Homo sapiens: one gene and its partners. The protein of the gene in region 1 interacts with the protein of each later gene in a pairwise test. Each region holds a gene or a part of one and is shown on either strand. Other genes may lie near its edges. The genes, in order: CEP126, PRKRA and MRPS6.

Evidence for each region.
Region 2: the proteins of CEP126 (region 1) and PRKRA interact in a two-hybrid assay, tested with the Homo sapiens proteins (one large-scale study listed by BioGRID and IntAct).
Region 3: the proteins of CEP126 (region 1) and MRPS6 interact in a two-hybrid assay, tested with the Homo sapiens proteins (one large-scale study listed by BioGRID and IntAct).

Annotation. Positions count from the first base shown.
Region 1 is NC_000011.10:101,959,961-101,963,619, reverse strand, and holds part of CEP126 (centrosomal protein of 126 kDa), read right to left. Parts: intron 1,880-3,659; coding exon 1-1,879. UniProt on the Homo sapiens protein: Participates in cytokinesis. Necessary for microtubules and mitotic spindle organization. Involved in primary cilium formation.
Region 2 is NC_000002.12:178,430,812-178,434,232, reverse strand, and holds the end of PRKRA (interferon-inducible double-stranded RNA-dependent protein kinase activator A), read left to right. Parts: intron 1-141; exon of another isoform or gene 142-851; intron 852-1,978; coding exon 1,979-2,136; 3' UTR 2,137-2,819; downstream 2,820-3,421. UniProt on the Homo sapiens protein: Activates EIF2AK2/PKR in the absence of double-stranded RNA (dsRNA), leading to phosphorylation of EIF2S1/EFI2-alpha and inhibition of translation and induction of apoptosis.
Region 3 is NC_000021.9:34,076,530-34,080,188, forward strand, and holds part of MRPS6 (small ribosomal subunit protein bS6m), read left to right. Parts: intron 1-3,659.

The DNA of each region.
Region 1 (3,659 bases):
AGAGTGGAGAACTACTTTCCTGATTCCACTGATTCAAACTGTGTTCTGTTGGAAGCACATGTTTTGAATTAAAAGAGTTATGTGTAATAATGTTTTGAGGATTTTCAGGAGTTACTGGTTGACACTGAGACACTTGTATATTTTTACCACTTCTAATATTTGATGTAGATTGAGGAGGAGGACAAGGTATAATTAATTTTCCCTGAGCTTGTGTAAATATGTTGACTTTGCTTGCAGACTGTGGTTGAATGACAGCGCCTTTTCTGTTTGTACATATAAAGCCTGATTGGACTTTTGCAGATCCTGGTTTTCTAATTATTTTTGCTCTACCTCTTTGTGGCTTACCTTGCTTAGTTTTAGAATCATCATGTACAGGGATTTTACTTTCTTCTTTTTTTGAGGCTGGCCAGGCATGTTTAGCAAAGTTATAACCTGAAGGTATAAAACAGTTCAAAGGCATATGGTCTGCTCCAGATCCTCCTAAAGTCGTAACATTTTCAGAGATAGAATCCTCCCTGGACTTCTTTGTATCAGCAGAATTTACAGCACAAGTAGAAACACTAATTATGTTGCTTCCAGCACCACTTTGAATGTGGAATTGTTGAGAATGCTGTTGAGTTGTTCCTGTTTTATTCTTCAGTGAATGACTGTTTTCAGCATTGTTTTCTATATTGCTAGTTTCATCAAACCACCTCAGTTTTTTAATGGTCTTTGGAATTTCTGCACCTTTTTCCTTTGTTAATTCAATACTATCTCTGATAGCTGCTGCTTTTTGATTTCCAAACTTAAAGCTCTGATTTATAATTAATGCCTTAAGATAACCATGTTCATATTTAGATTCTTTCTTTAAAATACTTTTAAGAAATCTCACACCATTTCTCTCATGGATGTTGTATTTCATTTTCTTATGCTGGCCAACAAAGTCATAATTAGAAGTTACATTAGACAAGGATGATGTTTCAGCTAATTTTTGTTTTTCATCTTTTGAATCAGGATTGTGAGGTATATAGGCATCTTGAAAACTGTCTGAAAATAAAGGCAACTCTTCCTTATTGCAATTAAAATATTTTATCTCTTCTTCTTTACCATCTTTCAATTCATCTAACTTATCAGAACACTGCACTGCATCAATTTCTTTTATGTGTATACTGTTCTTTGCTGAAGGTCTAGCTGACTGTATATTAGATGGCAAAACTAAAGGCGTTGCCACTGGTACACATGAAGTAGGAATTGAAGTAGTTCCATTTTCTTGATTTAATTCAGAATATTTCTCTTGGTCTGGAAATGTAGCCACTTCCTGGGTTAGAGAATCTGAAGTGCTTTGGGATTTGCTAAATTTAAATGTTGGGCTCTCAGTAACTAATGGTCTCTCTCTTTTGAATGCTCCAGAAGTGGAGTCAGTTGTCCTCATAGTGCTAGTTTCAGAGGTCTTTTCACATTTTTTATCTAGTACAAACATGGGTGGGCTAGATACAAAGGGTACTGAATTATTAGCAGTATTTGTGGCTCTTTCCACTGTTCCATTCAAAGGAGATGGATTTTGTTCTTTACTATTAAAATATTCCCATGAAGGCAGAACATTAGATTTACTTAAAATATCTGAGAAAGCTGTGACATTCTGAGTATTTGAAGCATCTAAATTTGTAAGCCAATTATTTATATGTTGAGTTTTAGAGAATGCCAGTTTATCTTCATCAAAGCAGCTGAGATTAGTTGATTGCATATTTGCTGGTTTGAGGGAAATGGTATTCCGCTGGATGGATGTGGAATGCTCCTTATTAAGTGTTAAATATATTTCTTCATGCTCTGTAGCCTCAAGACTGTCTATACTTGAGAGGGTTTCAGAATTGGTTATCTGATTAACTTCATCACAAAATTTCTGGAAAAAAAAAGAACATTGTTTTATAGCTTATAAACTTTTAAATGCCAAGATTAACGATTCAACATACCATTGTTACTGAGCCCAATTCTCCTTGCATATAGAGTAGTATGACTATAAACATCATAGGTATATAAATAATTCTTATCCCTGCAGCAATCCTCAAGGTAAAAAATTGGGAGGTAACAAAGACTTATAGTATAGTATGCTTGCTTTGATTTCAACTCCTAAAGTAATACCTGCTTATTCTAGCCACAGTTAGAACTTAAAAAAAATTTTTGTTATTGCTATTCCATTTAGAGTATGAAGTTTCTTGAAGGCTTAGTAATAGAAAGTGAGATTCTGAAAAATAATTATTTATAAATTGTATTTTTTTCCTAAAACATTCACTGGACTTGAATGAGGCTCCTAAAAGCTCTGTGATCCTAATGTGAGTTTCCTGTTAGTAGGGGCTACATCTTTTTATAAAACTTAATTTTGTGGACTGTAGTAAGGCTGTTAACTCTGGCTACATGTTAAAATCACATAAAGAACTGTGTAAAATATCTATACCTGGGTCCTGCTGATTTAATACTTGGATGGGGTCCATATACTGGTATTATTTAAATTCCCCAGGTAATTTTCATATGGGTTTAGGCTCAAAAACTATTGACTTTAATGACTCCTTTTGGAGGTTTAGCATAGTAGTAATTTCCATAAATTCCATAGACATTTACATCACTATTTCACTGAAATTTACATGAAATTTGTCAGTCTTTAATAATATTTCAAAATTACTTCAATGTATGGTAAATGTTTAAAAATATTTCTGTTTTCTCACACATACCTAGCATGCATTAATCTACATCACATATATAGAAATAAATTTTAAGAAGACATTAAATTGTATATCTAGTCAAAATGCTGAATGGAAAGAAAATTGATATCCCTTAAGATTTATCATACATTTTAGATTTATCTAAAATATGTAAATTTTAAAAATTTACATACTATGGTATTAGACAAAAGTACTTTCTTTTTCTATCCCAGTAAGTAAACTAAGAAATAAAGTAAATAAATTACAGAATAAAAATATTTTAATTTATATAGTTAGTTCTTATTGATTTAGTATTGTGGAATAAGTTTTAAAAATTATTCATGAGAGTTTTATATTTTTAGCATTTAGTCCCTATTTATCACATCCTTTGGCATACTTCTTAAAGTGATAATCACTCAACCCAAACAGGGAACAAAACAAAGCATAGCTACTTCAATGCCTGTTCTTGGAAATAAGTTGTTTTAACTGATAATGATGATGAAATCAGGCCTGGAAGGCATCCTTTGAGGTTACATCTAGTGAGACACAGAAATTTGCGTTAGAAGATCCTTCTAGATATAAGTATGACATCCATGGCTCTAAGATTTCCATTTGCATAGGTCTGTAATTGCTTCATCTCCCAAATCACCTCAGAAGAAGTTTGGCAACTTCTGATTTCATAAACAATACTTTTTTTTTCTTCAGATTTTTTCCCACCACTAAATAATGAAACATTATGATCAATTTCAAGTTTTGCTTATAAGTTACATTTAGCGGTCCGTCTTATCTTTATTGCCCTGCATGTAACATATCTTTTTTCCCTCTGGCTTTAATCTGATTTTTAGGTGCCTTTCTGTGGTATGTGTGTGTGCATACACTTATCCTTCTTGGAGTTTGTTGGGCTTCTTGAGTCTGTGGATTTATAATTTTCATCAAATTTGAAACATTTCCAGCGATGGTTTCTTTAAACATTTCCATTCCTAC
Region 2 (3,421 bases), on another chromosome or scaffold:
AGGCTCAGGTGGGAGAATCACTTGAACCCGGGAGGCAGAGGTTGCAGTGAACCGAGATCGCGCCACTGCACTCCAGCCTGAGTGACAGAGTGAGACTCTGTCTCAAAAAAAAAAAAAGAAAAGGTGGCTGATGAGAGACCATTCATCCAATAAATATTTATTACTGTCTACAGTTCATTGAGGGTTTAGAATACAGAGATGAACGACCCATGTCATGAATAGGACTATGGAGGATACAGAATCTGGGGGAAAAAAGGAAACCCAAGATAAATTTTTAGATTATGAATTAATGATGCCTCTGAAACATTTCTTCCCAGTTTTGAGAACTAAATAGTTCTTGTAGATATGGAAAGCCATCTAAAAACCACAGTCTGTTAATTTGGCTAGTTTATATGCAGCTACCTTCAAAAGAACCTAGATATTCTCCAAAGGAGATATACAAATGGGCTGGGCAAAGTGGCTCACACCTGTAATCCCACCCCTTTGGGAGACTGAGGCATGAGCATCGCTGGAACCCAGGAGTTTGAGACCACCTGGGCAACATAGTGAGAGCCTGTCTCAAAATTTTAAAATTAAAAAAGAAAAATGACCAAATGACCAAAAAATACATGAAAAGATGCTCGATATCATTAGTCAATAGAGAATGCAATCAAAACCACGATAATAAGGTACCACTTCAAATCCACTAGGATGGCTATCATTAATGAAATGGAAAATAGCAAGTGTTGGTGATGATGTAGATAAACTGGAACCTTACACGTTGCTGGTGGGAATATAAAACAGTTCAGCCTCCATGGAATAAGCTTCTCAGTTCCTCAAATGAATTGCCATATGACCCAGCAACTCCACTCCTAGGAGTATAAATAAAAAACTGGTATTTAAACAAATGCCTATACACACAGGTATCTGTATATTCATAGCAGCACCATTCACAAAAGCCAAAAGGTAGAAACAGCCCAAAACATCCATCAGTGAATAAGTGGATAAACAAATTGTGGACTGTCCTTCCAATGAAATATTATTCAGCTGTAAAAAGAAACGAAGTTCTGATACATTCTACAACATGGATGAGCCTCAAGCAGAAGCTGGAGGGTCAGGAGAAAAGAACCTAGATACTAGAACTAGAAAGCCTCTTTACTCATTAAATAATCCCATTGTATCTGGATATTTTCCACTAAATAGAGTATCAAAAATAACATTTTTATTATGCCTACTTCAAATAAATCATACCGCACACGTTTCTATTTCTTCCTCTTTGCCCTCATTTCAGCCATCTTTAGTAAGAGTGGCTCATCAGTTGATGGGAAGAACGTTTGTTTCCTGGGTCAGGTATTGTTTTTAAAATACCATGACCCATTTACAGTATAAATAAAGAACTAGACTCTGCACAGACTTAAAACCTAGGAACATGAATGGACAACAGCATAAATACATACAATTATTATGTATCAATTAAACATTTTTTTTTAATAGAAGACACAAGGGAGGTTTTGCCTTGACCGAAGTTATTCCTGGTTCAAATGCCTCCTGAAAATGACTTCCTAGTGGAAAATACAATCTCTCCAGTCCTCTAGCAAATGGTTCTTTCCCTTTTGAGAAAGTTACTGTGTGGTTCAGTAATTTCCAAATAGTGTTCAACTAACTATATTAGAATTGCCTTGGGAGCTGTTATTTTTTTAAGTGTAGGAATCAGCCACCCCCAACTGTATATTTCTGATTGAGTGAGCTAGAGTGCAGCCTAGATATCTGTATGTCTTTAACACTGTCAGATCATTATGAAGTGTAATGTGTTTGAAAACTGCTACAGCTGAGCAGTTGTGGTTTTTTGTTTGTACAAGCAAAACAAAGATTGCGAGTGGTGTAGTATACCATGGAGGCTTAAAAAGAAAGACAATAATAAGAATTGTATTGTTTTTACAAAGGGATCCACTTTATACATATTGGACATTAATCGTCATCCTTGAATGTGTCATTACAGATGAACTGAGCGCCAATGGACAATATCAATGTCTTGCTGAACTGTCCACCAGCCCCATCACAGTCTGTCATGGCTCCGGTATCTCCTGTGGCAATGCACAAAGTGATGCAGCTCACAATGCTTTGCAGTATTTAAAGATAATAGCAGAAAGAAAGTAAATCTGGAGCAACTTAAAAAATCTTTCAGTAGCACATAAAAAGTTCCCCTCTGGCCCCTTCCCAAGTAAAACTTTTACCGTAGTGTTTATGTCTTGTTTCTAAATCTCTTCATAGATTCCATCAACACTCCAGATTTAATTATCTCCTCATAGTTGTTATTAAGCTCTTTTTAATGGCTTCAACTTTGTATCAGTATACTGTATTTATAAACTTTGTACCACAAGAGAGAGTGTAGCACCCATTTTACAGTGCCATGCACATCAGAGAAAGAAACTGCATGTTTGTTGTTGATGATGAAATAAAAATGCTAGCGACAGTCTTTCTTACTGGTGCTTAAGCTCTTCTTTGCACAAAGCTTTATAAAGGGAATTCAAAGGAAGCCCTTTAGAATTAGAGTCTTGAGGGACAGCACTAACAGGCCTTTATTAAGTATGATTGATTGTTAAATTTCAGGGAACATGATTGGTCTGCTGTGTATTTGAATTCATGTAACAAAGAACTGTTACGATGGGATTCTGCTCATTTTATTAAAAAGCTACTGACTTGACTGTCATCCTGTTCTTGTTAGCCATTGTGAATAAGATTTTAATGTTGATAATTCTGTTATTTACATATCTCTAATTTACTTTGAAATTCAAAGGTGAAAATAAAAAATGATGGCCTAAGTAAAATTTACAAACATACATGTAATGGGTTACTTCCTTACTTTCTCTAAGCGTATGCAACCTTGTATTTTTCTTTGACATAACCATACACAGGTGAATTACTAGTTTAAAAAGCATTTGACCATGCATGTTGGCTCATGCCTATAATCCCAACTCTTTCGGAGGCCAAGGTGGGAGGATCCCTTGAGGCCAAAAGTTTGAGACCAGCCTGGGCAACATAGTGAGTCCCCATCTCTACCAAAAAGAAAATCAGGTGTGGTGGCACACTTTGAGTCCCAGCTACTCAGGAGGCTGAGGTGGGAGGATTGCTTGGGCCCAGAAGATCAAAGCTGCAGTGAGCTAGGATCACAGCACTGCACTCCAGCCTGGGTGACAGAGTGAGACCCTGTCTCAAAAAAAAAAAAAAAAAAAAAAAAAAAAAGCGTTAGTAGAATTACCCAAAAAACCTTCCCAGCTTATTCAGTTCAGTTGCAAGAATGTTCCAAAGTGATGAGTGATTAAAAGGTTAGGAAATAAGTCTAATGAACAGATTTTAACCTTACCTTTTGTGTTTCCATATATAATCTTGTAACATCTCAAGTCTTCCATCTGTCAGCGCCGGCTCGTGCTAGCTTTCTACA
Region 3 (3,659 bases), on another chromosome or scaffold:
ATCTACTTTTGTACTTCCAAGTTTGGGCATTTAGGAATGTAGTTAACTAGTGTTTCTAAGAAGAAATTTATTTTCAAGTACCATATAGCTTGATTTTTAAAAAAGTGTGTATATAAAAAAAGTTATTTCTATTTTCTGTTTTAGCGTGAAAAGTAGGTAAAAGTGTGGTTAAATTCTGAAATATGACGGTAAAGTAATGGATGTTGTGAAACTAGGCCTTTAAAGGTGACAAGCAATTTGAAAAACCAGTTGTTTAGACCAGTCTTAGTTCATATTTATAGAAGAGTCTCTGGAATAAAAAGATTTTAAAAGTCCTGTTACACCCATATCAGATAGCATCAAGAGAGTTTTATTCACTTCTGGAAAACACAGTATTCAAAGGCTGTAATGTGAAAGGACATAGCCGCAAAGGAGAGACCAAGGCTGCAGTCCCAGGTAGCCTCATTTCAGTGTGAGGAAGACCTCTGACAATGGAAAAAGAAATGGATTGCCTGTGAGATGGTGAGGTCTATATCCACCTCCACCCTGCCCCCCCTGCAATGAGAACTTTGAGGTAGATGAGGAGAAGGGGTCATGTGTTTGGTGAGTGAGCTCTCTTGTGAGTGGGAAAATGGTTGAAGCCCTTTGGTTTCACTTGATAATTAGATTTTAAAGGTTGGTATTTCAGTTAGGTAAAAGACTGAAGTGCCAATACATGAATGGTAAAGCCGCATACTGTATAATGTAGAGGAGCTTAGGAAAAAAATGAAACTTTGTAGACACTTTTTATGCCTTGGGTATACAGGAAGAAGAAATCTGAGGAAAGAAATCTGTGCAATACATAAGTATTTTGTGGTTACTTTAGGAACGCTAATTACGTCTCGTGCCCTTTTCCCAGAAGGTGTTCACAGTTGGCATAGATTATGAAAGCCCTGGGATAATACTTTTCCTGAAATCTTCTCATTGGCGTTCAGGAATTTTTACATGAAGAATTAAAGGTTAATGGCTTAATAACTAATTCACTTGCTAAATGATTCCATTGCATGTACAATAAGATAGCATTTATATATATATATCTTCATATGTTTTTCTAATAGGAATAAAGAAGATAGCTATTTTGGAAATCTTAAGTTCTTATTAAAACAAACAGTAATTTTTATGTTTAATACTCAACGCAGATTATATTTTACATTTAGATAACTCATTGAAATAGTACTTTGGTAGGGTAAGGAGTTTTGTGTAATCTGAGTTTGAGTTCTGACTTGGTTTAATTTGAATATAGAAAAGTATAATCAGTTCCTAAAATGTAGAAAACAGTTGGTTTTCTGGTAGAGTGATGAAGAGTTTTTCTCTAAATGCAAGCCTTTTTTGATTAGAACACCTGGCAAAAGTTTTGTATTTGTTCTAGAGTTCTATTCAAGTTAGGATGTTCTGAAAGTAATGCCTATGAAGTGCCTGTATTTTAGATACCCTTTGGAGATGGAGGGTGCTAATAAACTGAAGTATGAGTCAGGTCAACCCTAGGTCCTTGTAGTTTGCTTGGCAAGCATTTGATAACTAGGAAATAGTGAAGTTTCTGCTGTGTGTTGGTGGGAGACATCAGTTCAAACGGAAACATCTAGCTGTCAAGTGGTCTTTTTTTTCTTCCCATGGGCCCTCCCTAAACAGCTTAGCCTTGTATCTTTAATAATCTCTCTTTGTGTTTTATCTGCTTGAAACCAGGCAACTTAAAATAGTTACCTAGTAATGGAAGACTTGACCCTGTGAACAATGTTATACTTTCATTTGGTATTAAATTTTCTTGGGTTACAGCTTATTGCCGCAGCAAGCTATTGAAGAAGGAAGGAGTCCTGTTCCTGCCCCTGAGCTACAGCTAAGGTACAAGGAATGGCTTGGGGGTAAGGAGTCCTTCCTCACCAGATATGGTTTGTATGTATGAAGACTGCTTGTCAGAAGTTGACATTTTGCACTAATTTTTTTTCTTAATTCATGACTCACACATTCAATACTGATGTTTCTAGATTTTAAAAATCTAGGTTATATCTAGTATTATATGCAGACTATTGAATCTTCTAACCTTTTAGATTATAAAATCAGTTTCAAAAAATTAAGAGTTCAAAAGCAATGACGGGAAAATTCTGAAGTAATATTTTTCATCTAGTGCCTTTGCTGTGTTTGTACTACTACATGTTTAACTCATCTAAAAGAAACCTGGAATACCATAATGGGGTTTAACATGAAGGTGGAAGGAAGGGTAGAGAACAAATGATAAAATACTGTGTGATTACTCATGTTATAAAAAGTTGTTGCAATTTGATTATCAGACTTTTCCTATTTAATGTTCTTAGCTTTGTGTTAGAATTTCCAATATACTCATGAGTTTATCTGTTTTTAGTGGAAGGCAATATTTTTAAGACGTGTTATCAACACATGTAGTTACCTCTTAGGGGAATCCTTACTTAAGGAATTAGTCAAATGAATGTCTGGTAAGTTATCAATTTGTCTAAAGGAAGAACTACCCTTGGGTTTGGAAAGTGACAGTTAATTCAGCCTCTTATCCTTTTTGTTGCTTTGAAATTAGAGCAAGAGTTGGCAGCCTGTGGCTTCCGGGCCAGATCTGACCTGTCACCTATATTTTTGTGGCTTGTGAAGTAGGAAAAGATTTTACAGTTGAATAGGTGGGGAAAAAAACAGCAATACTTTATGGCACTTGAATTTCATAAAACTTTCACATTTCAGAGTCCATAAGTAAAGTTACATTGGAACATGACCCTGTTCTTTTGTTTATATTTATTATCTAGTCCTTTACAGAAGAAATGTGCCAGCCCCTGATTTAGAGTATATAGACACAATTTTCTAGGTGCATCATTTTTCTTGGCTTCTTATGCTGCTGTTTTCTGATGTTACTCCCTTGATTTCTCCCTTCTTCTTCTTTCTGTTTTTTTGAGACAGAGTCTTGCTGTGTTGCCTAGGCTGGAGTGCAGTGGCACGATCTCGGCTCACTGCAACCTCTGCCTCCTGGGTTCAAGCGATTCTCATGTCTCAGCCTCCCAAGTAGCTGGGATTACAGGCATGCGCCACCAGACCCAGCTAATTTTTTTTTTTTTTTTTTTTTTTTTTTTTTTAGTAGAGATGGGGTTTCACCATGTTGGCCAGGATGGTCTCAATCTGACCTCGTGATCTGCCCGCTTTGGTCTCCCAAAGTGCTGGGATTACAGGCCCTCTTCTCTTTATGTACAATTCCATTAACCTTCATGTGGATGATTTGCCACCTTTTTTAACAAGCTGACAACTCTGGCATTTTCTGTTCTCTTCTGTGCTGGTTATGGCCTCCTGGGTATCCCCTTGGCACTGCAAACTCAGTGTGGTTAAGAACTTAATGTGTTGCCTATCCCCAAAGTTGCCTCTGTTATTGCTTATTTCTGTTTATCGCTTCTCTGTCTTCTGTCATCTGGGGCTGAACAAATGCAGTTCTTTCTTTTCCTGCAGTCTCAATGCCATATAGTCTTCTCTGCCCTAGTTGAACTGCTCATGTTGTTTGTTTCTTCCTTGGACTCTTGCAGTTTCTTAGCTGGTCTCCTGACATACTACTGAGGGGAGGATAGCTAATACCTGTAAATACGCTTGTAGTGCAAATATATGTCCTTGAGATACTTTAAAACACCTAAATAGGTGCACTT